7 linked regions of the Homo sapiens genome follow. The protein of the gene in region 6 purifies or fractionates together with the protein of the main gene of each other region. This does not show direct contact. Each region holds a gene or a part of one and is shown on either strand. Other genes may lie near its edges. The genes, in order: AMOTL1, MB21D2, ATG4C, PPIL4, AMOT, RAB3IL1 and EIF1AX.

What was found.
Region 1: the proteins of RAB3IL1 (region 6) and AMOTL1 purify together in Homo sapiens (affinity purification with mass spectrometry, with the first as the bait; one large-scale study listed by BioGRID). This does not show direct contact.
Region 2: the proteins of RAB3IL1 (region 6) and MB21D2 purify together in Homo sapiens (affinity purification with mass spectrometry, with the first as the bait; one large-scale study listed by BioGRID). This does not show direct contact.
Region 3: the proteins of RAB3IL1 (region 6) and ATG4C purify together in Homo sapiens (affinity purification with mass spectrometry; 3 studies listed by BioGRID and IntAct, with this or other methods). This does not show direct contact.
Region 4: the proteins of RAB3IL1 (region 6) and PPIL4 purify together in Homo sapiens (affinity purification with mass spectrometry; 2 studies listed by BioGRID and IntAct, with this or other methods). This does not show direct contact.
Region 5: the proteins of RAB3IL1 (region 6) and AMOT purify together in Homo sapiens (affinity purification with mass spectrometry; 3 studies listed by BioGRID and IntAct, with this or other methods). This does not show direct contact.
Region 7: the proteins of RAB3IL1 (region 6) and EIF1AX purify together in Homo sapiens (affinity purification with mass spectrometry, with the first as the bait; one large-scale study listed by BioGRID). This does not show direct contact.

Annotation. Positions count from the first base shown.
Region 1 is NC_000011.10:94,771,356-94,774,855, forward strand, and holds part of AMOTL1 (angiomotin-like protein 1), read left to right. Parts: intron 1-3,500. UniProt on the Homo sapiens protein: Inhibits the Wnt/beta-catenin signaling pathway, probably by recruiting CTNNB1 to recycling endosomes and hence preventing its translocation to the nucleus.
Region 2 is NC_000003.12:192,907,857-192,911,356, forward strand, and holds part of MB21D2 (nucleotidyltransferase MB21D2), read right to left. Parts: intron 1-3,500. UniProt on the Homo sapiens protein: Probable nucleotidyltransferase that catalyzes the formation of cyclic dinucleotide second messenger in response to some unknown stimulus.
Region 3 is NC_000001.11:62,815,132-62,818,631, forward strand, and holds part of ATG4C (cysteine protease ATG4C), read left to right. Parts: intron 1-1,443; coding exon 1,444-1,677; intron 1,678-3,500. UniProt on the Homo sapiens protein: Cysteine protease that plays a key role in autophagy by mediating both proteolytic activation and delipidation of ATG8 family proteins.
Region 4 is NC_000006.12:149,532,544-149,536,043, reverse strand, and holds part of PPIL4 (peptidyl-prolyl cis-trans isomerase-like 4), read left to right. Parts: intron 1-305; coding exon 306-448; intron 449-1,269; coding exon 1,270-1,366; intron 1,367-2,469; coding exon 2,470-2,586; intron 2,587-3,500. UniProt on the Homo sapiens protein: PPIases accelerate the folding of proteins. It catalyzes the cis-trans isomerization of proline imidic peptide bonds in oligopeptides.
Region 5 is NC_000023.11:112,820,332-112,823,831, reverse strand, and holds part of AMOT (angiomotin), read left to right. Parts: intron 1-643; 5' UTR 644-705; coding exon 706-1,577; intron 1,578-3,500.
Region 6 is NC_000011.10:61,904,067-61,907,566, reverse strand, and holds part of RAB3IL1 (guanine nucleotide exchange factor for Rab-3A), read left to right. Parts: coding exon 1-2; intron 3-96; coding exon 97-174; intron 175-464; coding exon of another isoform or gene 465-559; intron 560-882; coding exon 883-1,101; intron 1,102-2,684; coding exon 2,685-2,813; intron 2,814-2,908; coding exon 2,909-3,021; intron 3,022-3,500. UniProt on the Homo sapiens protein: Guanine nucleotide exchange factor (GEF) which may activate RAB3A, a GTPase that regulates synaptic vesicle exocytosis. Promotes the exchange of GDP to GTP, converting inactive GDP-bound Rab proteins into their active GTP-bound form.
Region 7 is NC_000023.11:20,128,339-20,131,838, reverse strand, and holds part of EIF1AX (eukaryotic translation initiation factor 1A, X-chromosomal), read left to right. Parts: intron 1-1,231; coding exon 1,232-1,323; intron 1,324-3,500. UniProt on the Homo sapiens protein: Component of the 43S pre-initiation complex (43S PIC), which binds to the mRNA cap-proximal region, scans mRNA 5'-untranslated region, and locates the initiation codon. This protein enhances formation of the cap-proximal complex.

The sequences.
Region 1 (3,500 bases), about 33 Mb from region 6:
TTTTCATTAATTTTGGCAGGTTCTTATGACTCAGAATTTAGTAGGTAATAAAATCCTCGAAAAGCAAGGGGTAGTGTGGAGGTCAAGTAAAGGGAGATATTTGATTACAAGGTTTGTTGGAAATAGTCTGAGGTTGTTGTGGTTTTATGTTTTGTTTTGTTTTTTTGTTTGCCTAGTGATTTTTTTAAAGTTAATTTTGTTGGCTTGGCTTTGTTTTGTCTTGAAGGAGAGGTACAATGTAAATCTTGGCCATTGTGGGTAGGGCAGTCCTCTACTTTTGCTGGAAGGAAGCCACTCCTGCTCTTGGTTTATGTGTTGGCATCAAGCTGAGTTCTACTTTAACTTGTGAGGCCCTTGGCTCTGCTCTCACGGCCAGGCCTTGTGTAACCTTAGGGTATATTCATTTTGGACACTCAGGACAGGACTCCTGGACTCCTAAAGGGGCTCACACATCAGGCATTTTCCCCCCATCTTTTAGGAGAGAGTAGGAGAGTAGCTCTAAGGTGTTGGAAATGTATCCCTGTTAAGATACTGAAGAATTAGATTTAAGTTTTCAAAAACTGTCGTTCTATGGTGTGTGTTTAAACCTGTGTTTGAGACCTCACTGGCCAATATTGCAGCTATATACCTCTATTTTTTCATTTTGTTTTTAAGTAAAATGTCTGCTGTTTACTTTTAACTTTTCGTTTTGAAATGATCATAGCTTCATAGGAAGTTGCAAAAATAGTAGAGAGGTCCTGTGTACCCTTCACCCAGTTTCCCCCATTGGTAACATCTTACATAACCATAGTACAGTAGCAGAACCAGGAAATTGACATTGGTACAGTCCACAGAGCATATTCAGATTTCACCAGTTTTACATGCACATGTAAAATTTGTATTTCTATGTGTGTACTTCTATGCATTTTTTCATGTGTAGATTCATGTAACCGCTACCACAATCAAGGTACAGACTATTTTATTACCCCAATGATCTCCCTTATGCTACACCTCTATAGTTGCACTGGCCCTCTTCTCCCCATCCTCACTCTGTTGCTAAATGCTTAGCAACCACTACTCCTGTTCACCATATCTATAATTTTATCATTTTGAGAATGTTACATAAATACAATCATGTAGTATGTGAGCTTTTGAGATTGGCTTTTCACTCAGCATAATGCCATGGGGATCCATCCAAATTTTTGCATCTCTCAATAGTTTGTTTCTTTTCATTGCTGAGTAGTATTCCATAATATGGATGTACTATGGTTTGTTTAACCATTCACCTATGGGTTTTTTCCAGTTCATGACTATTTCACATAAAGTTTTTATGAACATTTATATATAGGTGTTTGTGTGAACATAAGTTTTCATTTCTCTGGCGTAAATGCCCATGATTGTGATTGCTGGATTGTATGGTAAGTGTGTGTTTAGTTTTTTAAGAAATTGCCAAACTTTTCCAGAGTGGCTGCACCACTCCTATTAGCAATGTATGAGAGATCCAGTTTCTCTGCAACCTCACTAGCATTTGATGTTATCACTATTTTTTATTTTAGTTGTCCTAATAGGTGTTCTAGTAGGTGCTCTAATCTTACCATGGTTTTAATTTGCATTACCCTAATGGCTGATTATGTTTAATGTCTGTCTTTTTTATGTGCTTATTTGCTATCCATATATCCTCTTTGGCGAAATAACTATTCATGCCTTTTGCCCATTCCCTAACTGGATTATTTATTTTACTTTAGAGCTTTAAGAGTTCTTTATATATTCTAGATGCAAGTCCTTAGTCAGATTTGTGGCTTGCACATATATTTTCCCAAGTATGTAGCATGTCTTTTTATGTCCTTACCAAGGTCTTTTGCAGATCAAAAGTTTTTTATTTTGATAAAGTCCAGTTGATAGATTCCTTTTTTCTTTAAGGATGGTGCATTTAGTGTCACATCTAAGAACATTTTGCCTAGACCCATGTCTCAGACATTTTCTGCTGTGTTTTCTTCTAAAAGTTTTATAGTTTTACATTTTATTTTTAAGTTATAGTTCACTTTTGTCTGTCTTAAGAGTTTGTATGTCTTGCTGCTGAGCTTATAAACCATCTATTAGGTCTCGAATATGCACAGATGGACTATCAGGTGTAGTTCCCATTCTGAAGTGCTCACAGATTAGGGGTGTGGCATGTGGACATTACCATGTGTTACTACTATGATGGGGACACATGTGATGTACTGTGGGTGCTCTGAGGAGAGAGGGCTCACTTTGGTCCAGGCGGTCAGGGAGGGCTTCCCTGGGCATGCTGCCCAACCATGGTGGGAATAAAATTGGTTTGCTTTTGATCCAGTTTTTAGATCTTTATTGCCATGAATTCTTTAGAGTGTGTTACTCTGATTCTTGAGCACATGCTGATTGAGTTGGCATAAACTGAGTGGTTGAGGACCTTTTTGAACAGTACATGGCATGATAGCTTAAAAGAAGGTGAAAACACAGTACTTAAAACTCAGTAACATAAACAGTATGAATGAAGTTGAATAGATTAAGAGTTATGTATATGTTAAAATGAAAAAGGAGAGGTAGTATTTTGGATTGAGAACAGGTGTATCCTGGCCCTGCCGCCTCCTTGCTGTGTGACCTCGGAATTGTACATGCTGAAGCCTCATGAGTAAAATGGGGAAAATAATAGTTCTTCCCTCATGGAGCTGCATGAGGGCAAAGTGAAGCAATGCGCACAATGCTGGGCACGTTGAAAGCATTCAATAAATACCTGCTACCATTATTATTACTAAAACAGCAGAGAAGCAAAACACTTTATAATGTTACGTAAATTCGCATGTATCCGTCTTCTTTGAGAACCTGGAACCCCTGTTCTTACTCATGGAAGTGTTCCTTTTCACAGTTGGGAGCGCTGTGAATACTACTTAGTGAATGAGATAGAAGCTAGGATGCCCTATTCACAATCTATTACTATCTATAAAATAAACCTTTCTTTGCTTCTATAAAAGTATGATTTCTGATGAAAGAATGATTTCCTCTGTGCCCTTGAGCACAGGAGGCAGGAGGAGGTGGGTCTGCATTCAGAAGGCTAGTTCAGAGTTTATGGTGCTTGGTACTGTAGGTGCAGTAAGTCAGGGCTGATGTCACCAGGCCGTGTCTCAAATTTCATAACTGGCAGCTCTGTTTCCTTCTTGATGACCAAGTTGTTTACTTCTCAGAGGAAATTAATTGGGTCTTAGATGTACAATTCCAGGACAGTTGTTCTCAAATGTGATTGAGCATCAGAATACCCCAGAGGGTTTATTGAAACATGGATTGCTGGGCCGCACCCCTAGAGTTTCTGTTTCCTTGGTTGATTGAGGATAGGGCCTAAGACTTTGCATTTCTAACACGTTTCCAAGCAATGCTGATGCTGCTGGTACTGGAAACACATGTTAAGAATGACCATTTTAAAACATAGCCCCTTTAAATTGGGCCTGGACTGAGATGCTTACCCTTTGGAATGGAGTTTGTTCATCTATAAGTAATTGAGTTTG
Region 2 (3,500 bases), on a different chromosome or scaffold from region 6:
CTGAAAAGCCCTGAGTATGGGCATGCCAGAGGTCCGGAAGTACCCTCACATGCCTGTGAAGAAACACCGGGGTCCACAAGGAAGGGAACATCCCTATGAGTCATGAGTTGCAGTTTGCTGTTCCCAGTCAACAAGCTACAGCAATCACTATGGACATTTCTTATATTGCCCTAGGATAGGTCTTAAGGAATGTAGAAAAACTTGCCCTACATCCCTCTGCCACATAAGGAGATAAGATCAAAATTTTCTGGACTCCAGAAAATGATAAAGTATAACTCAATGGATTTTTAAAAATCATAAAGAGACAAGGTTAGAAAGTGCTAATTTCTCAGAGACTGCAATAAAAAGCTTCACTGGGAAGAGCTCTTTTAAAGAGTGACTCAAGTCACATCACACTTAGTGAGCACCTACTATGTGCATGACCCCCTGGGTGCTGCAAAGATAAATAAGCCAGGTATTCTTTAAAGCATGGGAAAGAACAGGCTAAGGGCCACAAAAGGGACCAGGTATTAGGAGGAAACACAGGAAAGGTAAATTTTCTTCTTTTTTTTTTTTTTTTTGAGACAGAGTCTCCCTCTGTCGCCCAGGCTGGAGTACAGTGACGCGATCTAGGCTCACTGCAAGCTCCGCCTCCTGGGTTCACGCCATTCTCCTGCCTCAGCCTCCCAAGTAGCTGAGACTACAGCAGCTGGGATGACAGACGCCCACCACCACGCCCAGCTAATGTTTCGTATTTTTTTTTTAGTAGAGACGAGGTTTCACCGTGTTGGCCAGGATGGTCTCGATCTCCTGACCTCGTGATCCGCCCTCCTCGGCCTCCCAAAGTGCTGGGATTACAGGCATGAGCCACCACGCCGGGCCAAATTTTCTTCTTCTCAAAGACATATAGGAAGGCTTCATGAGTCAAGTGGCATTTGAGCTGGGAGAAAAAAATAAAGCGGACATAAGGTGTCAGAAGGTCATCTGTAGAACCTGGGACATTTAATTGTTTCTGTGACATGGATCCTCTCGACAGACTGTAGAAGCCTATAGATCCCTGCAGAGAATAGCATATTTAAGTGAATATGATAACATCACACAGGATTTCCAAGAAAATCAGTATTAAAATACAAAATGCGGCCGGGCACGGTGGCTCACGCCTGTAATCCCAGCACTTTGGGAGGCCAAGGCAGGCAGATCACGAGGTCGGGAGATCGAGACCATCCTGGCCAACACAGTGAAACCCAGTCTCTACTAAAAATACAAAAAAATTAGCCAAGCATGGTGGCGGGCGCCTGTAGTCCCAGCTACTCGGGAGGCTGAGGCAGGAGAATGGTGTGAACCCGGGAGGCGGAGCTTGCAGTGAGCCGAGATCGCACCACTGCACTCCAGCCTGGGTGACAGAGCGAGACTCTGTCTCAAAAAAAAAAAATAAAAAATAAAAAAATAATAATAAATGCCTTTTTAAAGTAAATTTGTGATAGAGTACCCTATGTGATTATTAGTGCCTTAAATAATAAAATCTAGCAGCAAGTCTAATATCCACCATAATTTCAAAGCAGCAGTAAACATTTTTTGAGATATCTGCAACAACTGTAATGTGAAATAAAAATGCCTGGGATTTCTATTGGCAACAAAAACATACGAACCACTAATAACACTATGGTTTCCCATCTATATTTATAATGAAAGAAAATGCTATATTTAAGTTAGAGGTTAATACAAATAAAGATGTCCTTTTTTCCCCACTCAAGTTCACAGGTTCCATGCTGTTTCCATGGACCCAGGTTAGGGAACTCTGATGAAGAGCCTCGGCCAGACACGGTGGCTCACGCCTGTAATCCCAGCACTTTGGAAGGCCGAGGTGGGTGCATCACTCGAGGTCAGGAGTTCAAGACCAGCCTGGCCAACATGGCGAAACCCCATCTCTACTAAAAATACAAAAAATTAGCTAGGCATGGTGGCACGCACCTGTAATCCCAGCTACTCCAGAGGCTGAGGCAGGAGAATCACTGGAACCCGGGAAGCGGAGGTTGCAGTGAGCCAAGATTGAGATCGGCCACTGCTCTCCAGCCTGAGTGACAGAGCAAGACTCTGTCTCAAAAAAAAAAAAAAAAAAAAAAAAAAAGAAAGAGAGAGAGAGAGAGAAAAGAGCCTAAGAGCCTAAGCAAAGAAAGAAAGTGAGAAATTGGGGTGTATGTTACATGACAATGTAGAACATGCAGAGACAGGAGGCGGCATGGAAAGGTAGGTAAAATCCTCAGAAGATGGCAAATAAGGTAGGTAAAATCCTCGGAGGTCACCAATGTGAGAATTCATTACTCCCAATTATTAAATAATAGAATAGAGGTGGGGCGTGGTAGCTCATGCCTGTAATCCCAACACTTTGGGAGGCCAAGGTGGGAGAATCACTTGAGCCCAAGAGTTCAAGACCAGCCTGGGCAACAAGACCACCATCTCTACAAAAAAAAAAAAAAAAAAAAAATTTAAAAATTAACTAGGCATGGCTGTGCTCTCCTGTGGTCCCAGGTACTTGGGATGCTGAGGTAGGAGGATCGCTTGAGCCCAAGAGGTCAAGGCTACAGTGAGCCGTGATGGCATCATTGCACTCCAGCCTGGGCAACAGAGTGAGACCTGTCATTCATACATATATACATAAATAACAGAATGTGCTCTAAGTTCTAGAAATGCATCTTCTTTGGAATAAAAAGAGATGAATGAAAGAAGCTAGGAAAACATCATTCTACAAGTTTCAACTTATAGCTCCTCTTTAAAATGTAGAGGACAGCATATTGATAAATTTACTCCTAATAAAAGAGCATGGATCCCATACCATCCCTGTTATGTAAATGTACACATATGTCTGGGTATAAGCATATGTATAACACAGATGTTTAGAAGAAATGTGCATCAAAATATTAATGGTGATTCAAGTTTAGGAGTGATTTTACTTTTTCCTTTGCATTTTCTATCATTGGAAAACGGGCAGAATTAGGCCCAACATAGGTTAGGAGACTTAGGGTAAAACACATACCACATAGTACAAAACAGAGCTGGTACAAGAACTCAGAAATTCCCTTTTCTCTTACTATATAAAAACTTTCAGATTCAGAATTGAATGCACCTGAACACATGAAGTACATATAATGATTAAGCCCAACTTATATATTTAGAAACTGAGGCTTAAAGTCTGAGTGACTTGCCCAACGTCACACAGCAAATGTTAATAACTGGAGATTCAGAGGTAAAATCTGGGTCTCTTGGTCCTGAGTGCAGAATATTGTCCTTGTTAAAAGCCAGGGTTTTGTATTCATCCTGACCCAGGTTAAGTCCCACCTATGCCACTCACTTGCTGGTAAACTTGGATGAATTCCTATATTTTTCTAATTCTAGGGTTCACCACAGTTTTTTTTTTTTAACCTCAAAGTGTAATGGTGATGATTAAATGATACAGTAAAGTCCTATTAAAACCTGTGACATAGTAAACACCCTTGTCTCACTCACTATGCCTTTTTGTCTCT
Region 3 (3,500 bases), on a different chromosome or scaffold from region 6:
AGCTAGGTTTAAATGTATCATGTCATTATTTGCTTTCTATTTGTTAAATCTTTTTTTTTTGTTTTCTTTTCCTCCCTTTCTACCTGCTTTTGGATTGAGTATTTTTATCATTCTCTTTTATCTCTTTTGTTGTCTTATTAGCTATAACTTTTTATTGTTATTTTAGTGGTTTAAGGTTTATAGTATACATCTCTGACTTATCACAGTCTGCCTTCAAGTGATATACCAAGAGCCTTACAGTATACTTCACCTTCTCCCTCTTGGTCTTTATGATATTGTTGTCATACATTTTACTTATTTATATGTTATACACCCCACACATCTTACTTAATATGTTATCCACCCCATAGTAAATTACTATTATTTTGGTTTAAATAGTCAAATATCCTTCAAAGAAGGTATCATGTTTGGTGTTCTTCATTCCTTTGTGTGAATCTGTATTTCCATCTGGACCAGTGGTTTAATCATGGCTCAATGCAGCCTCAACCTCCTGGCTCCAGTGATCCTCATCCTCACACTTCAGCCTCGCAAGTATCTGCACCGCACCTGGTTAATTTTTATTTATTTTTAGAAATGAGGATCTCACTATGTTGCCCAGGCTGTAGTGCAGTGGCACGATCTTGGCTCACTGCAACCTCTGCCTCCTGAGTTCAAACGATTCCCTTGCCTCAGCCTCTCGAGTAGCTGGGACTACAGGTGCCTGCCACCATGCCTGGTTAATTTTTGTATTTTTAGTAGAGATGGGGTTTCACCATGTTGTCCAGGCTGGTCTTGAACTCCTGACCTCAAGTGATCCATCTGGCTCAGCCTCCCAAAGTGCTGAGATTACAGGCGTGAGCCACCGCGCCCAGCCAGAATCTTCCTGTTTTAGCCTCCCAAAGTGCTGGGGATTATAGATGTGAGCCACCATGCCTGGCTAAGGTTTCTTTTAATGCAGGTTGGCTAGTGATGTCTTCTTCCAGCTTTTGTGTATCTGAAAACGTCTTTATTTTGCCTTTATTTTTGAAAGGTGTTTTTGCTGCATATAGGATTCTGAGTTAATGATTTTTTTTCTTCACTACTTTGAAGATGTTGCTGCACTATCTTCTTCTTTTGTTTCCAGTGAGAAATCTAATATCGTCCTTGTCTGTGTCCCCTCTTCAAAGAGTTAATTATGTATAGAATATAGGATATTATTATTAATAACAAGAGTATTGTTGATAATACCTTATATTAGTTAACTCTACAGTATGTAAAACATTTCAGCATTCATTCTAACTTGATTTTCATAGGCAGTCAGGAAAATCTAACTTGATTTTCATATCTTTATTTTAAAAGATAAAATTAGAAAAAAAGGATTGGAAAGATTGTGACATACTTCACATCTTAAGACAGTAATGATAATGTTTGTTACCATTATAGACATTTCTCTGGTTATCTTTAGACCGTATGTTTATTTTTTAGATGAAGATAAAACGTTACCTGCAGAGTCGGGATGTACAATAGAGGATCACGTAATTGCAGGAAATGTAGAAGAATTTCGTAAAGATTTCATTTCTAGAATATGGCTGACCTACAGGGAAGAATTCCCTCAAATAGAAGGCTCAGCTTTGACAACAGACTGTGGGTGGGGCTGCACATTGAGAACTGGCCAGATGCTCTTGGCTCAAGGACTCATACTACACTTTCTTGGTAGAGGTAAATCAAATTTCTGTTTTTGTTTTGTTTTGTTTTGTTTTTTTGTCGTCGATATTTTTCCATTTGAATTCCAGCTTACAAACTGCATGAAATTCCCTGAGGTTAATTTCTTGACTGTGAGATTTTCTAAGGAGTTGTAACTAATTTGGTGTATTGCATTTTTTTTGAACTGGGTCAGATATGACTTATATGTAAACTTCCCTGATTCCCTTTTCAAAAATGCAGGTTAAATATACCTGTTATTCTTGGTCACCATTATGAGTTAAGTTAGTTCAATTTTTAGTACCCTTTGGATTTTATTGTTCTTACTGTTTCTTTCCTTTTGGTTGAACTCTGGATTATCTCCAGTTTAGTTAAGTCCTGGGCAGGTTAGTAACAGTGATTTTGAGGACATATGTAATATTTTTAAAATTTTAAGAGACTTTACTCTGGTTTCTTTATTTTCTCCCTACATGTCAATAATGGTTTAAAAGTATTTTTATCTTTATTAGTGTGATTATACTCAATTATATTAAATCAATTAGACATACTCTTTCAAATTAAAAACTTTTTTTAGCAATAGGGTCTCACTCTGTTGCTCAGGCTAGAGTGCAGTGATGTAATCATAGCTCATTGCAACTTCGAACTCCTGTGCTCAAGCTATTCTCCTGCCTCAGCTTCCTGAGTAGCTGGGACCACAGGTGCGTGCCACCATGGTTAGCTAATTTTTAAATTTTTTTGTAGAGATGTGGTCTCACTATGTTGCCCAGGCTAGTCTTGAACTCCTAGGCTCAAGTGATGCTCCCACCTTGTCCTGCCAAAATATTGGGATTACAGGTGTGAGCCACTGTGCCTGGCACTAGACATATTCCTAATAAGGTAATCATGCAGTTTTAGACCCTAAAAAATGTCATTGATACTTAACTTACATATATATGTTTTTCCTAATGTGCCACCTTTGTGTTAGTCCATTTTTAATAATGTGTACATTTGTAAGAATATTTTAGTTTACAATTTTAAGATATCATATTTGATTATTAAATATTGTCAGATTTTTATAAGTGTTAAGACAGTATCCCTACAATGCATGGCATATATTTAGTAACTTTTTTGTAGAGATTATTGATGAGATTATTTAGAGAGAATGTTTATTGAAGAATGGTGTTGAAAATGTAAGGAAAATAATTTTTAAACTGGTTTTCTGGGATGATTTATTTATAGTCTTGTGCAGTCATGGGCAAGGATTGGAATATTTTTCAGTCCTCACTAGATCTCTGAATCTATGACTTATTTTGTTAACTTAAAATTACATGCATGTTTGGGGATTGTCTTGTTATTCAAAACAGTGACATAATGGATATATTTGATTTTTCAAGGTCTTTGATCTTTTATGATTTCATTTATTAACTATTAGAGAATTGTTATTACTCTGTTAATAATGATTAAGTTATTCTGAAGAAACGTACAGGAAAATATTTTGAAAAAAATTTAAAACTTCCATGGTCAGACTTCTATTTTAACATATAATCAAAACATCCACTTTCTGAAGATATCTTCTTATGAGTATCATAAATGTTAGTAAATATGTTTATTGTGCCTTTGGGTAGTCAAGACTGGATGTTTGATAAGCAGTCTGATAATGAAATACAAAAGTCTTTATCTCAGCACTGTCAAAGAAGAGAAAAAAGAACATCTGGGATTGTCCATTTTTACCCAAGGTTACTATTTTTTCTTTCTTTTGTCTTGTATTTTTGTAATTTTTTTCTTGATTATATGAAATTTTGGAAACTACAGAAAAGTACAGAGAATAATACCATTAAGGTAGAAACATCATTGATATTTGG
Region 4 (3,500 bases), on a different chromosome or scaffold from region 6:
AAAATGTGAGCCAGAAACATGAAGTGAGCCTATGCTGTTGGGAAAATGGCACCAATAGACTTACTCAATACACGGTTGCCAGAAATCCTTAATTGTAAAAAATGCAGTATCTGCAAAGTGCAATAAAATGAGGTATGCCAGTATAAGCTTTGTACTTTTTACTTAGTTTTGGTAACAAGTGTCTAAGAATTGGTGCAGTAAATGTGGACTCTTAACTTTCATGTATTTTTTTGTCAGTCTGTAACTGATTTCAGTTTGAGTTATGTATTATTTTTATGGTATTTATTATGTGTCCTTCTTTATAGTTTCTTATCACCACAGGAGAAAATCTAGATTATCTTGATGGTGTCCATACGGTGTTTGGTGAGGTGACAGAAGGCATGGACATAATTAAGAAAATTAATGAGACCTTTGTTGACAAGGACTTTGTACCATATCAGGATATCAGGTATGGTTACAATTTGCTATCTGAATGTACTAGAATGTTTTAATATTGAGATGTTTAACACGTAGTGGTATGGATAGGAACGGTATGCATAGGACTGGTTTCTGGATAATTCTAATCCCAAAAGGTGAATTAATATAAGACTGTAAGAATCTTTATAATAAAAAGGACTTTTTGTATTTTTATACTTGTACTAATTATTTATAATTATGTTTGGAGGAATTATTTATTTATTTATTTTTTGAGACGGAGTCTCATGCTGTTGCCCAGGCTGGAGTGCAGTGGCGCGATCTTGGCTCACTGCAAGCTCTGTCTCCCGGGTTCACACCATTCTCCTGCCTTAGCCTCCCAAGTAGCTAGGACTACAGGCGCCCGCCACCACACCTGGCTAATTTTTTGTATTTTTAGTAGAGACGGGGTTTCACCATGTTAGCCAGGATGGTCACGATCTCCTGACCTCATGATCCACCCACCTCAGCCTCCTGAAGTGTTGGGATTACAGGAATGAGCCACTGCACCCAGCTGGAGGAATTGTTAATGCTTTAATTTAGTTTTTTAATTGAGAAGTAGGGCAAAAGTACTAAGATTTAGACAGTTATATTAGTTTACATCTTAAAGTAATGCAGGGTGATAAATATGGTATCACTCAATGCAAAACAGTAACACTCATTGTGAAAGTATATCTAGGTTAGTAATATCCATATGCAATATGGGTTTTTTTTGGCCTTAGAGATAATCAAGTAATTTTTTGTAATCTATTAAAATAAAATAGGATTCTGAAATAACTTCAATGTATAACATTTGATTTGGATTTATTTTGTAAGGATAAATCATACGGTGATTTTAGATGATCCATTTGATGACCCTCCTGATTTATTAATCCCTGATCGATCACCAGAACCTACAAGGGAACAATTAGATGTAAGTAAAGCCCTCTTATGATTAAATGTACATTCATATTAATGATTTGTATGGATTTATCTTTTTCATCTGTTAAAGTTAATTTTTTCCGAATTATTATCTTGCTTAATTATATTCAACAAGTTTGGAGTTCTTTTTCTTTTCCACAGAGGTACTCATTTTTCTAGCTGTCTTCTCATTTCTCTAATTTCCTTTCTTCAGTTTCTTTTCTACTGAGACAACCTCAGCTCTAGAAGCTTACATGAACACCTTGGGAAAGTGTTTTTCTTGTCATCAAATTAAACTGTTATCTTGTGAGGTAACTTTTCAACTGGGGACACTCTGGAGCCAGGCTAGAACCCAGAAATTTCTGTGAAACAGCGCAGACTGTTCCCCCACATATTTTAAGGTTTATGTGGCTTCCTGAAAGCTGAATTTGTCTTTATGGTTGGGATTGGTGCTTAATTGTCAGATCATTTCTCTTCATTCAGCAGTTAGAATTGGATAATAAATAGTGTCCATATAAATATTTATTTATTTTTTTGAGATGGAGTCTCACTTTGTTGCCTAGGCTGGAGTGCGTGGTGGGATCTCGGCTCATTGTGGCCTCTGCCTTCCTCATTCAAGCAATTCTCGTGCCTCAGCCTCTTGAGTTGCTGGGATTGTAGGTGCATGCCACCACGCCCAGCTAATTTTTGTATTTTTAGTAGAGACAGGGTTTCACTGTGTTGGCCAGGCTGGTCTCGAACTCCTGACCTCAAGTGATCCACCTGCGTGTTCTCCCAAAGTGCTGGGATTACAGGCACGAGCCACCATGCCTGGCCTATTTTGATTTTAACAGAAGCCCACTTTGGCTAATATTTTAGAATTAATATAAATCAATTCTTGGAGGTTTATAAGTTTGTCTCAGTTGCTGTCCAATTAATTATTAAAAATTTTTTTTTAGAGACAAGATCTCACTGTGTCACCCAGCTGGAGTGCAGTGGTGTGATTGTAGCTCACTGCAACCTTGATCAGTTACTGTTTTAGCATGTTTGATATAACTAAGAATAAAGTATGTCTTCTATGTTTCTCAGATTTTTTTATTCTTTAAATATATACATGAGTAACTTCTGTCTTAACAGAGTGGTCGAATAGGAGCAGATGAAGAAATTGATGATTTCAAAGGAAGATCAGCTGAGGAAGTAGAAGAAATAAAGGCAGAAAAAGAGGCTAAAACTCAGGCTATACTTTTGGAGATGGTAAGATAATTATCTTTGTTCAAATTGTTCTGTAATATATCTAATAATACTTACTGAGTGTTTATTTCTGGCTCTTCAGTAGTCTTAAAATGTTAAAAATTGAGTTATGATTTTTTTCTGATTTAAATTTGGTATGGCATAGTAATAAATTGGCTCTACTGTGAAAATAAATTTGACTCTACTGTCAATATAGTGCTAAGTGCCTTTTTAAACAGTGGGAAGTGGATCTCTAACTTATTAATTGAATTTCAGTTGTTTAATATTCATCTCATTCTTAAAGAGTGTTTAGCAGGCTGAATTTTATGTATATTAAAGAATAGTTCTTCACTGTACCACTCAAGTGTTAAGATTAAACAGAATGGTAGTTGTAGGGCAAAATAATGGGTGGAAACTGAGCACTCTAAAATATACTGCTTCTCTGTATTACTAACAACCTGAAGTCATTTGGGGAATAATAATTCAGTAGATGATTAATTGACCTACTTGGTATTATTTTCCATTTCTTATTTTTGTAGAATAGGCATACCTGTCATATCATAGATAATAAATATTGGAATGAATGGATAATAAAGTTACTATTTTATATAATAGAACTTTCAGATTTGTAGTCTGTTTTAAAGTTTATTTATTTATTATTTTATAGAGACAGGGTCTCACTCTGTTGTTCAGGCTGGAGTACAGTGGTGTATGATCATAGCTTGCTGCAGCTTCCAACTCCTCAGCTTAAGCAATGCCCTTGCCTCAGCCTCCTGAGTTGCTGAGACCACAGTCACACACCACAATGCCCTGCTAATTTTAAAATTTTTTTTGTAGAGACAGGATCTCCCTATGTTGGCCAGGCTTAAGTTTATATTACCATCAACTGTCTGAATGAACAAATAGTAAAGGCTGTATAGTTCAAGAAAGCTTTACTG
Region 5 (3,500 bases), on a different chromosome or scaffold from region 6:
AAGTCCTTCTCTTATTAAGCCAAGGAGCATCCAAAATGGAGACTATGAAAATGATTTTTTAAAAAGATGTTTCAGAGCCTTATGAGATCAGAGAAAAAGATTTGCATCGAGGCAGGGATCATTACTGTCTGGTGCAAGCCAAGCTCTCTTCACCTTTTATTTATTTGAGTCTTTATTTTGCATTTTGTAGCTGCCTTCATATGCTGAGCTGCTTTACAAATCCTGTTATGGGGTAACTTTCCCCACTGTCCTGCCCCCACCTCCACAGCCATAAGATTTGGGTTTTTGCTTTAAATAGAATACAGAGAGATGAAGCCTGTGAATATGGACCTTGAAAAGTTACCCCCTTTGATTACCCTAGTTGACTGTTCCAGGTTTCTCAAGCATTCTTAGGAGTTAAGTCCAGATTGAATATTTAACTCATGCTAAAAGTGAAAGAGAAAACCTAGAGCTCTTATGCCTCCATGTTCTTCATCATATCAGTGCTAGGGCCTGGAATCCCCAACAATCTATTAATTTTAGAGTCAATTCTCTACTTTGTTTCTGCAATCGAATCCTCACCCTCCAATATCCATTTTCTTTCCCTTTAGAGGACTGATTTATCCATCAACTGGGTGTTAAGCTTCCTGTTTCCCCTTCCCAGGTCAAGGGCAGCCCAGGTGCCCAATTTCTCTCTCTCTTCACAAGGCACCACCAGCAATAGAGATGAGAAATTCTGAAGAACAGCCAAGTGGAGGGACCACGGTATTGCAGCGTTTGCTACAAGAGCAGCTTCGCTATGGCAATCCTAGTGAGAATCGCAGCCTGCTTGCCATACACCAGCAAGCCACAGGGAATGGCCCTCCTTTCCCCAGTGGCAGTGGGAACCCGGGCCCTCAGAGTGATGTGTTGAGTCCCCAAGACCACCACCAACAGCTTGTGGCTCATGCTGCTCGACAAGAACCCCAGGGGCAGGAAATCCAGTCAGAAAACCTCATCATGGAGAAGCAGCTGTCTCCTCGAATGCAAAATAATGAAGAACTCCCGACCTATGAAGAAGCCAAGGTCCAGTCCCAGTACTTTCGGGGCCAACAGCATGCCAGTGTTGGAGCTGCCTTCTATGTCACTGGAGTCACCAACCAGAAGATGAGGACTGAGGGACGCCCATCAGTTCAGCGGCTCAATCCTGGAAAGATGCACCAAGATGAGGGACTCAGAGACCTTAAGCAAGGGCATGTCCGTTCCTTGAGTGAACGACTAATGCAGATGTCACTGGCCACCAGTGGAGTTAAGGCCCATCCACCTGTTACCAGTGCTCCCCTCTCCCCACCACAACCCAATGACCTCTACAAGAATCCCACAAGTTCCAGTGAATTCTACAAGGCCCAAGGGCCACTTCCTAACCAGCATAGCCTGAAGGGCATGGAACACCGAGGCCCCCCACCAGAATATCCCTTCAAGGGCATGCCACCCCAATCTGTAGTGTGCAAGCCCCAAGAGCCAGGGCACTTCTATAGTGAGCATCGCCTGAACCAGCCAGGGAGAACAGAGGGGCAACTGATGAGGTATCAGCATCCCCCTGAGTATGGAGCAGCCAGGTAAGAGAGTTCTGTTTCTGTCATTTCCTGACCTCATCCCCAACCAGCTTCTGCTGTGTGTTGGGAATCTTAGGGAAGGAACGGGCAGGTGTTTGATATAACAAACTCTGCAATGCATGACAGGCCTCTGGCTTCGTGAATTGCCTGCCAACCCGAATTTGTATCCTCTTTAGCCATAATTAGCACTGTATTAACAATCCCTTAGCTTTGTAGGTTGAGCATGGCCTCAACTGCCTAGTGGACGAACAGGAGCAAAAGTCTTGTTTTCAGCAGCTATTTGCTGTCCTCTCTCCTAGGATGTTGAAGGGGTCTGTGTTTCTCATAAGCCCTCCTTGAGAGGTAGAAGCAAATTACCTTGCACTTTAATTAGTCTGGAACATCCTATCACTTGCACATATTCCCCTCCATGAAGCTTTCATCATTTATTTTTGCAAACAAATCTGTGTATTTCTTGTCAGTTACCATTTTTCCATAGAATTACCATTATTCTTTTGGACTAAACAAACACCCAGATGTTATGGTGGGGGAGCTATGTATGTATGTAGGTTCAGAATGTTACTTGCCTTATGCTTGCAGTTTATGAAATCTGGACTGTTGTATCTTTTTTTTGTAGAGAATTTATTAGTTGCCTGTCACATTTTTAAACCTCTGAGTTAAATTCCCATCACATCATATAGAAATTTTGGTCAGATGCTAAAATACAGAAGGAAAAATATTACCATTTCTGTCTTATATATTTAGTTGTTCCTATATATACTTCTTAATTATTCAGAGGTCCATTGTCCCACTGCTATATTCACTAGACCTTATGATTCTATGATTCTGTTCATTGTTCCTGTTGTTAGTATTTGGGCCATGTCTCTGATCAGTAGTATTTCCACATATAGGGCAGGAGAAAAGGTTTAAACCATGGGGACCGATGGTGGCATTTAAGTGTGGTATCCTGCCTCATGGCCATGAGTAATGATGGGTGACCATCAGGTTTGAAGTGCTTGGTCCTAGGCTGGCCTTCATTTATATGCGGCTCACAGACTAGGTCTGTGATGTCCTTTGATGTCTACCTCTTTGTCTCCTGTACCCTACTTGCTCATTTTGGAAAAAACCTTCTGGCTTGAAGTTCATTGAGTGACTCAGGAGAGAAGGCAGTCATGGGGTGGAGTAGGGTGAAAGTGAGAGAAGGCACCTAGCATTTCCTGGTATTTCTTTTTTTTCCCCTGCAGGTCCTGTTTTTGTAGCCAGAGGCAATTCACTTTGGACTCCACCTCTAACTTTGCCAGTTTAGGATTTTTTTTTTTTTTTCCCTCTTAACCCAGGTTGATTTCCTAACCCTTTTCAACCTCCTCTGTGCAGCTTTCAAAGGGCAGGAGCCTATGTTCTGATCAGTGTCTTGGAACAGGAAATGGGGTAACCAACAAGGCTACTCAGGTTTAAAAGAGATCAAGAACCAGATTCCCATCTGACCAATGAAACAGAAGACCCAGGGAGGGGTTGGTCTGTTCAAGACTGCCTCACTTAGTGGAAACCCATTCAAGCCAGCAAAATATCAATGAAGCTGGGGGTTTTTATTTTGCTTTTCCCATCAGTATGGAAGAGTCTGTTGATGGGCTGATGTCTGTTGCCTTGTGGGAGGGGAGTGTGTTGGCTGGGGTGTGGAGCAGAAGCCACAGCCCCACTCAGCACACAGCCCGCCTTCCCAGGAAAGCTATTTTCAGAACTCATTCACCAGTATTGTTTGTGATCTGAAATGACTCCCACAGTGTTTGAAGCTAGATGGAAAATTATCTGCCCTTTGATCTGCCTAAATAAATAATGAGGAGCCCAAAGAGGTTTTCTTTTTTTTTCCTTTTCTTCCCATCCTGATTAAACCACCGGAGAAATTTAGCTGCATGTATTTTACAGGAAGATACATATTTTTTATCCTCC
Region 6 (3,500 bases):
AGGTACACCGGCTGGGCGCGGGAACAACTTGGGGAATGGGTCATCTGGGCGTCCGTTGGCTCCTCACCACTCACGCAGGGACTGCCTTCTTCCTAGGAAGCTCACAAGATGGTTCGAGAAGCCAACATGAAGCAGGCGGCATCAGAAAAGCAGCTGAAGGAGGCTCGGGGCAAGGTGAGGCCCATCCCCGCCTGCCCAGGCCAGCCCAGGCACCCCCCCTGCCTCCCGGCTCAGCGAGCACTGAGCTTTGCTGCCCGAGTGGACGCTCACCTGGCCCGGTGGGGCCAGCAGGAATGGGTGAACCTAGGCCCAGGGAGGGAAGGGAAGGGTGGGGGTCTGAGATCACAGGGCCCAGTGTCCCGGGGCTCCATCAGTGATTCTGCTGCATGGCAGAGCCTTTTCTGGGATAGTGCTGGGGCTGGGAGGACCCTGTGATTATTGTACCTTCTTCCCTCTCCTCCCAGCCCCACTTTACAAAGCAGAAACCTCACTCAGTATGGCTGTCTGAGCCTGGGCAAGTCGCTTCCTCTCTCCAAGCCTGGTTGCCCATCTGCAAAATGTGAGGCCTGGGCCTTTCCTGGCTCCTGGGGGCGGTCCCAGAACTCTCATGGGAGGCCCAGCCAGCTCCCAGACACTTGTTCCTAACAGAATCCTGCTCACAGAGTGACCTTGGGCAGGCCATGTCGCCTCTGTGAGCCTCAGTTTCCCTATGTGTAAAACGAGTGTCTGGGTCTCTGCCTCGAAGGCTGTTCTGAGGGCGTCGGGTGGGACTAAGTGCCTGTCACTGCAGGGGTGCATTGTCCTGAGTTAGGCTGATAGGCGGTGGCAGCCAGGATGGCATCCAGTCTGGGTGAGGGTTGACAGCCATCCCATCCCATGCAGATCGACATGCTGCAGGCAGAGGTGACAGCCTTGAAGACGCTGGTCATCACGTCCACACCAGCCTCTCCCAACCGCGAGCTTCACCCCCAGCTGCTGAGCCCCACCAAGGCCGGGCCCCGAAAGGGCCACTCTCGCCACAAGAGCACCAGCAGCACCCTCTGCCCCGCCGTGTGTCCCGCTGCGGGACACACCCTCACCCCAGACAGAGAGGGCAAGGAGGTGAGGGTGGGAAGCGGGCTCTGGGCACGGGGAAGGGTGGCAGTGCCTGCGGTAGGCAGGGTCCGAGCCCAGTGAGGACCAGCCTGCCCCATGCTGTGTGACCTGGAGCCTGTCCTGCGCCTCTCTGGGATGTGAGGGCTGGGCAGGTCCTTTCTCTCCAACCTCCTGTGATCTGAGGCACTTGGCCTGCAGCCTCCAGGGTATACCATCTGGGGACCTGAGGCCCCCTCCCTGCCCCACTGACTCCAAGCAGTAGGTAGTGGTCTCTGCACCTGAGGCTGGCTTTGGCCCTGAGGATCTGGGGCCTCCACTGAGACACACACTTCCTTGGCCTTAAGAGGCCAAGCAGCAGCCACTGGGCCTCAGGGGAGAGGCTGCCTGGACCCCGTGTGGCCACAGCCTCGAGCCCCAGGACCACCTGGTGACAGCCCTGTGCTCAAGGGGTTTCTGGCACCCTCTGACTGTGGGGCTGAGACAAGCGTGGCCTTTGGAGAGGTGTCTCCGTCCCACCTCAGCTGGCCACACCAGTTGCTGGGCCCAGGCTGGGCTGACACTCATGGTCATGGGTCTGTAGGCAAATGAGGCCACCTGTCAGCACCTCAGCTTTCTCACCTGATAAATGGGGCCTCCCGGGGCTGCTGGAGGAACCAGAGACAGGGACATCAAGAGCTGAGTTCAAGGCTGCACCCAGGTAGTGCCTCAGAGGGCTGTGGTGCCTTCAGCTTCCTGGGTCCCTGGCGCCAGCCCACTCGACTCCATCCTGGCTTCCACCTCTGTCTCCAGGGCCTCCAGGGAAGACGAGCAGGCCCTCATCCACCTCCTGAGCTCTGAGCTTCTGAATGTACATTAACTTCTCCCCTTCCTCCTGTTCTGTCTCTGTGCACCTGTCTACCTGTCTGTCTGTCTGTCTGTCTGTCCATCCGGCCCAGCCCGGGCTGGCCCCGCTGCTCTCCCTGCTCCTCTGCGTGGTCCCCAGCAAGGCGGTTCACCTCACCTACGAGCCGGCCTGGCCGCTCCCACCTGGGGAGCCCCCAGCCCCTGCCTCCACTCCCTCTCCCTCCTTTTCCCGACAGGTAAATGGCTCCAAAGAGGGGCCTCCCACTTTGCCCCCTCCCAGCCTCCCTCATTCTGCATGTGGCCTGGAGCAGGCCAGCAGTCACCTCTGAGGTGTGGGCCCAGGGCAGCCTGTGTGTGTCCCCTCCTGTGTGCACGTGCTTGTGTGTGCTTGTGTACCTGCTGGTACCTGTGGCCTCCTGCTAGTTGCTCTTTGACTTTTCCTCCTCAAGGAGGCACTGAGGGTCTTCAGGACAAAGCCCTGCACCCCACTCTAAAATCCAGTAGCGCCAAGAAATTTAACACCGGCCTGGAAACAAAACTTTTAGTTCTAAATTCTTTGGTGCAAAGGGCAGAAGGGAGCTCTGCTGCTGCTGGACTTGGCTTCCCTGCACGGCTGCTGGGGATCGACCTGCTGGCTTGCTGGGCCTGCCCCACGTCCTCCCTCGCTCCCCTTCAGCTCAGCCTGCATCTTCTATGCTGGCCCCAGTACCCTGACCGCCCCCACCCTCGCTTGCCCTCCCCCACAGGTGGACACAATCCTGTTTGCAGAGTTCCAGGCCTGGAGGGAATCCCCCACCCTGGACAAGACCTGCCCCTTCCTGGAAAGGGTGTACCGAGAGGACGTGGGCCCCTGCCTGGACTTCACAATGCAGGAGGTGAGGCATGGCAGGGGCGGGGCCAGCTGGGGGACACACCCCTCCGCCAGGGCCCAGCCCCTTACCACCCTGCCTGCCTCCCTGGTCTGCCACAGCTCTCGGTGCTGGTACGGGCCGCCGTGGAGGACAACACGCTCACCATTGAGCCGGTGGCTTCGCAGACGCTGCCCACAGTGAAGGTGGCCGAGGTTGACTGTAGCAGCACCAAGTAAGCTGAGGGTCTTAGCTCCTTCCTGCCCATGTGGGAAAGCCCCGCCAAGCCGTGTGTTTACTGTGCCGAGGGGTGGTCAGGATGCAGCAGCGCCGACAGGACAGGGACAGTTGCTGCCCCCACAGGGCAAGGAGGCAGTTTGGCAGGTTTCCTGTGGACCCCCAGGCTTTCCAGAGAGGCCGGGAGCTAGGGTCTGCCTCTTCCTGACTGGTCTGCTCTGTGCCCTCCCCTTCTTTTCTTGAACCATGATTATCAGTTGCTGGCTGTGCCCCTGCCAATAAATAACGACGCAGTAGCCCTGGCATTTGTCCTCCAGCTACTCACCTGGCATTGAGCAGGGGAGCAGCAGAACAAAATAGCCAGGGTGGAGCAAGGGGCAGAAATTGGGGAGGATTTCACCTTGGCAGCCAAGAGCCTGGCTGGGGATGGCTGGTGCCCTGGTGGGAGGCTCATCACGGAGAGGGAGCATTTGAGCC
Region 7 (3,500 bases), on a different chromosome or scaffold from region 6:
TGCCTGTAGTCTCAGCTACTTGGGAGGCCAAGACGGGAGGATTGCTTGAGTCCAAGAGTTCAAGGATGCAGTGACCTATGATCATGCCACTATACTCGAGCCTGAGTGACAAAGTGAGACCTTGTCTCAAAAAAAATTAAAAAAAAAAAAAAAAAAAAACCATGAAGCAAGGGCAAGTAATTAGGTACAGTTACTGATTTTGTTTGTTTGTTTTGAAATGGAGTCTCACTCTTTTGCCCAGGCTGGAGTGCAGTGGTGCAGTCTTGGCTCACTGCAACCTCTGCCTCCCAGGTTCAAGCGATTCTCAGCCTCCAAAGCAGCTGAGATTACAGGCATGCACCACCATGCCCGGCTAATTTTGTAGTTTTAGTAGAGACGGGGTTTCACCATGTTGGTCAGGCTAGTCTCAAACTCCTGACCTCAGATGATCCACCCACCTCTGCCTACCAAAGTGCTCGGATTTCAGGCGTGAACCACCATGCCCGGCCTCATTACTGATTTTTATTAAAAAGTTATATTTCCATTTTATCGTTGTATAATAGTATCCCATAGGATTTTTTAAAAGCAACATTTCTTGGTTTTCACCCTTCCAAATACAAAAGTAATGAATTCTTAACGCAGAAAACCTAAAAATAAGTCCCTTATAACCTCATCAAAGGGGAAATGTACTTGACATACTGTTCTGTAGGCCTGCATTTTCACTTGGCAGTTATTATTTTTGGCTCTGTTGTATCTTAAGAAAAAACATAATTTTGTTATATTTTACTTAAGCATGAAAGTCCTGCTGAAATTACTTAGCATTTCTGATCTAAGAAATGTTAATGTATATAGGAATAGGACTAGCGCTTCCTGGTTCATTTTCATTGCTTAGGGGTAATCATGATTTGACCAGATCTTTCTGATTGATGAGTCTATCTGATGATTAGTGAACCAGCTATTCTTAAGGAAATACGTTGTTACCATATTTCCTTGTATGTTGAGAAGTATACCTGAAAGTTATAATAGCTTCAGAATTAGTGTAATTAGGGCCTTCCTTACTAAAAATACCTTTGCAAACAAAAGAAAATGGTAACACAGATACTCCCATCTTGACTTAGCAGTGACACTGCAGGAATTTTTTTTCATAAAATATTCTTTATAGTTATTGTCTTATATAAAAGGAATGCTCTTATGATGAAACTTTGAGTAAATTACAGTGCTGACTTATGAGTATTTCTTACTGTGTCCTTAGCTAAAATCAATGAAACTGATACATTTGGTCCTGGAGATGATGATGAAATTCAGTTTGATGACATTGGAGATGATGATGAAGATATTGATGACGTAAGTAGATGTACCTTGTGTTTTCCAATTTTTGTTATTATCCATGGAGAAACCAACTTTCCCCTAACATCCATTAATTTTAAGAACATGGGACACTTAAATAAGGTTGTATTTTGAGAATTGTCTGAATTAAATAATATTATTTAGAAGACACCTGGTCAAACTGTTTATATTTTGAGAATTCTTTTTTTTTTTTTTTTTTTTTTTTTTTTTGTGATGGAGTTTTGTTCTGTCACCCAGGCTGGAGTGCAGTGGTACAATCTCAGCTCACTGCAATCTCTGCCTCCTGGGTTCAAGCGATTCTCCTGCCTCAGCCTCCTGAATAGCTGGGACTACAGGCGCGTGCCACCACGCCTGGCTAATTTTTTGTATTTTTAGTAGAGACGAGGTTTCACCACGTTGGCCAGGCTGGTCTCGAACTCCTGACCTCCGGTGATCTGCCCTCCTCGGCCTCCCAAAGTGCTGGGGTTGCAGGCGTGAGCCACCATGCCCGGCCCTATTTTGAGAATTCTTATAACCCTCTTCAATTTCTCTTCCTGAAAAGGTCAGTGTTTGCATTGGCAATATTAACGCCAGCCACTCTAATCATAACTTGTTTAATTAAGAGTCTCTAAAGAGATAGCCATTAAGAAATTTAGTGGACAGTTGAAAAATAGATCTTATCAAAGGAACATGCCTTTTTAATTGAAATATTAGTGTGTTGAAAGAATCTTGTTTGAACCAGCTTGATATGAAGCATTGGAATTACAACATACACTGAAAGCCTTGTCAAAATGGAAGCCTATTGCCAATTATGGTATTTTTAGCTGTTGGGTGTGTACTGTTGGCAAACTCTTGGTTTGCAGTTGGTATGTTTATTTTGAGGAAAATGGATTGTCTTTCCTAATAATAAAGTAGTAATGCCCATAAGTGTAAATGCTTTACTGCACTTCTGCTGTTACTGTAATTGAATGAAATTCAAACTTAATCTTTTGGCAGTATAAATTTATTTAGTGATTAGGGTGTTACTCTTAAATCTGTTTTGGGCTCTTCTTTTCAAACCTCTTTTAACTAAAATGTAGTTCAGAAACCACCTGTGTATTTCAACCCAAAAACAATAATAAGTCAGATGTGGTGGTATGCACCCATAGTCCCAGCTACTCAGGAGACTGATAGGGGAGGATCACCTGAGCCCAGGAGTTCAAGACCAGCCTGGGTAACATAGCCAGACTTTGTCTCTACATAAATAACATAATAACGTTAAATTTGATGCAAAGATGGAATTTCGGAATACCTAGAGCAGTTGTTCCTGACCAAGAATACTCACACTGTGAGTTAAATTACTAATATTATAGACATTTTAACATGTACACAAAAATAGGAAGTGAGAAATAAACATGTTGTTCTGTTATTTTCTTAATTTTGGAGACCCTGAGCCAAGAGGAGTCTTACGACTAAACTGTTACTAATATTTTGACAATAGAATTAACAATTCTATTCTTTGGTAAATAAGAGCTTGCAGCTGACATGTGGATTAAGCGCCAACCCAAACATTTTGACATCTGAGCAGGGGTAGAAGGCCTCTTTAAAAAAAAAAAAAAATTAAGGAACCTAACCAGAGAACATGCATGGATATGAAGCCGCATGCACCAAGATAATGGGTTGAGAATCTAGGCGTGGTCAAGATTTTCTCAGTAAAAATTTCTGGATCTGGGCCAACGCCTCCTCAGAACTGGACCCAGCTGGCTGGCTGGAAAAGGGATGGTAAAGAGTGATTATTAAAGGAGTTCTCTTGAACATTTTGTAAAAGTTGGCTCTGTCACCTGAGAACCCTACTCTTTGAGACATTTCTCCAGGTGGTTTATAGATGTTTTAACTATAACCAGATTGACTCAGGAGAATTAGGTCAGTATCACACTGAACGGGATCAATCATATCATGCTTCCTGTGTCTGCTCCCATCCATGAGATACAAAAATCTCAAATTACAAGCATTAAAGGAAGGAGACAGTAAATTTTATTAAGAATATTTTGCATAACATGTAACATTACAAAGGAGATCATCACGATTTACTTATAGCAGGCCAGAATTATAGGAATTTCTTCTTCAAACTGGATTTGTTTCTCACATAGCCTAAGGAGGTGAAAGTCTCCCTTATATATGGAGTAGACTGTTGGAATATAAGAATTCTTTTTCCT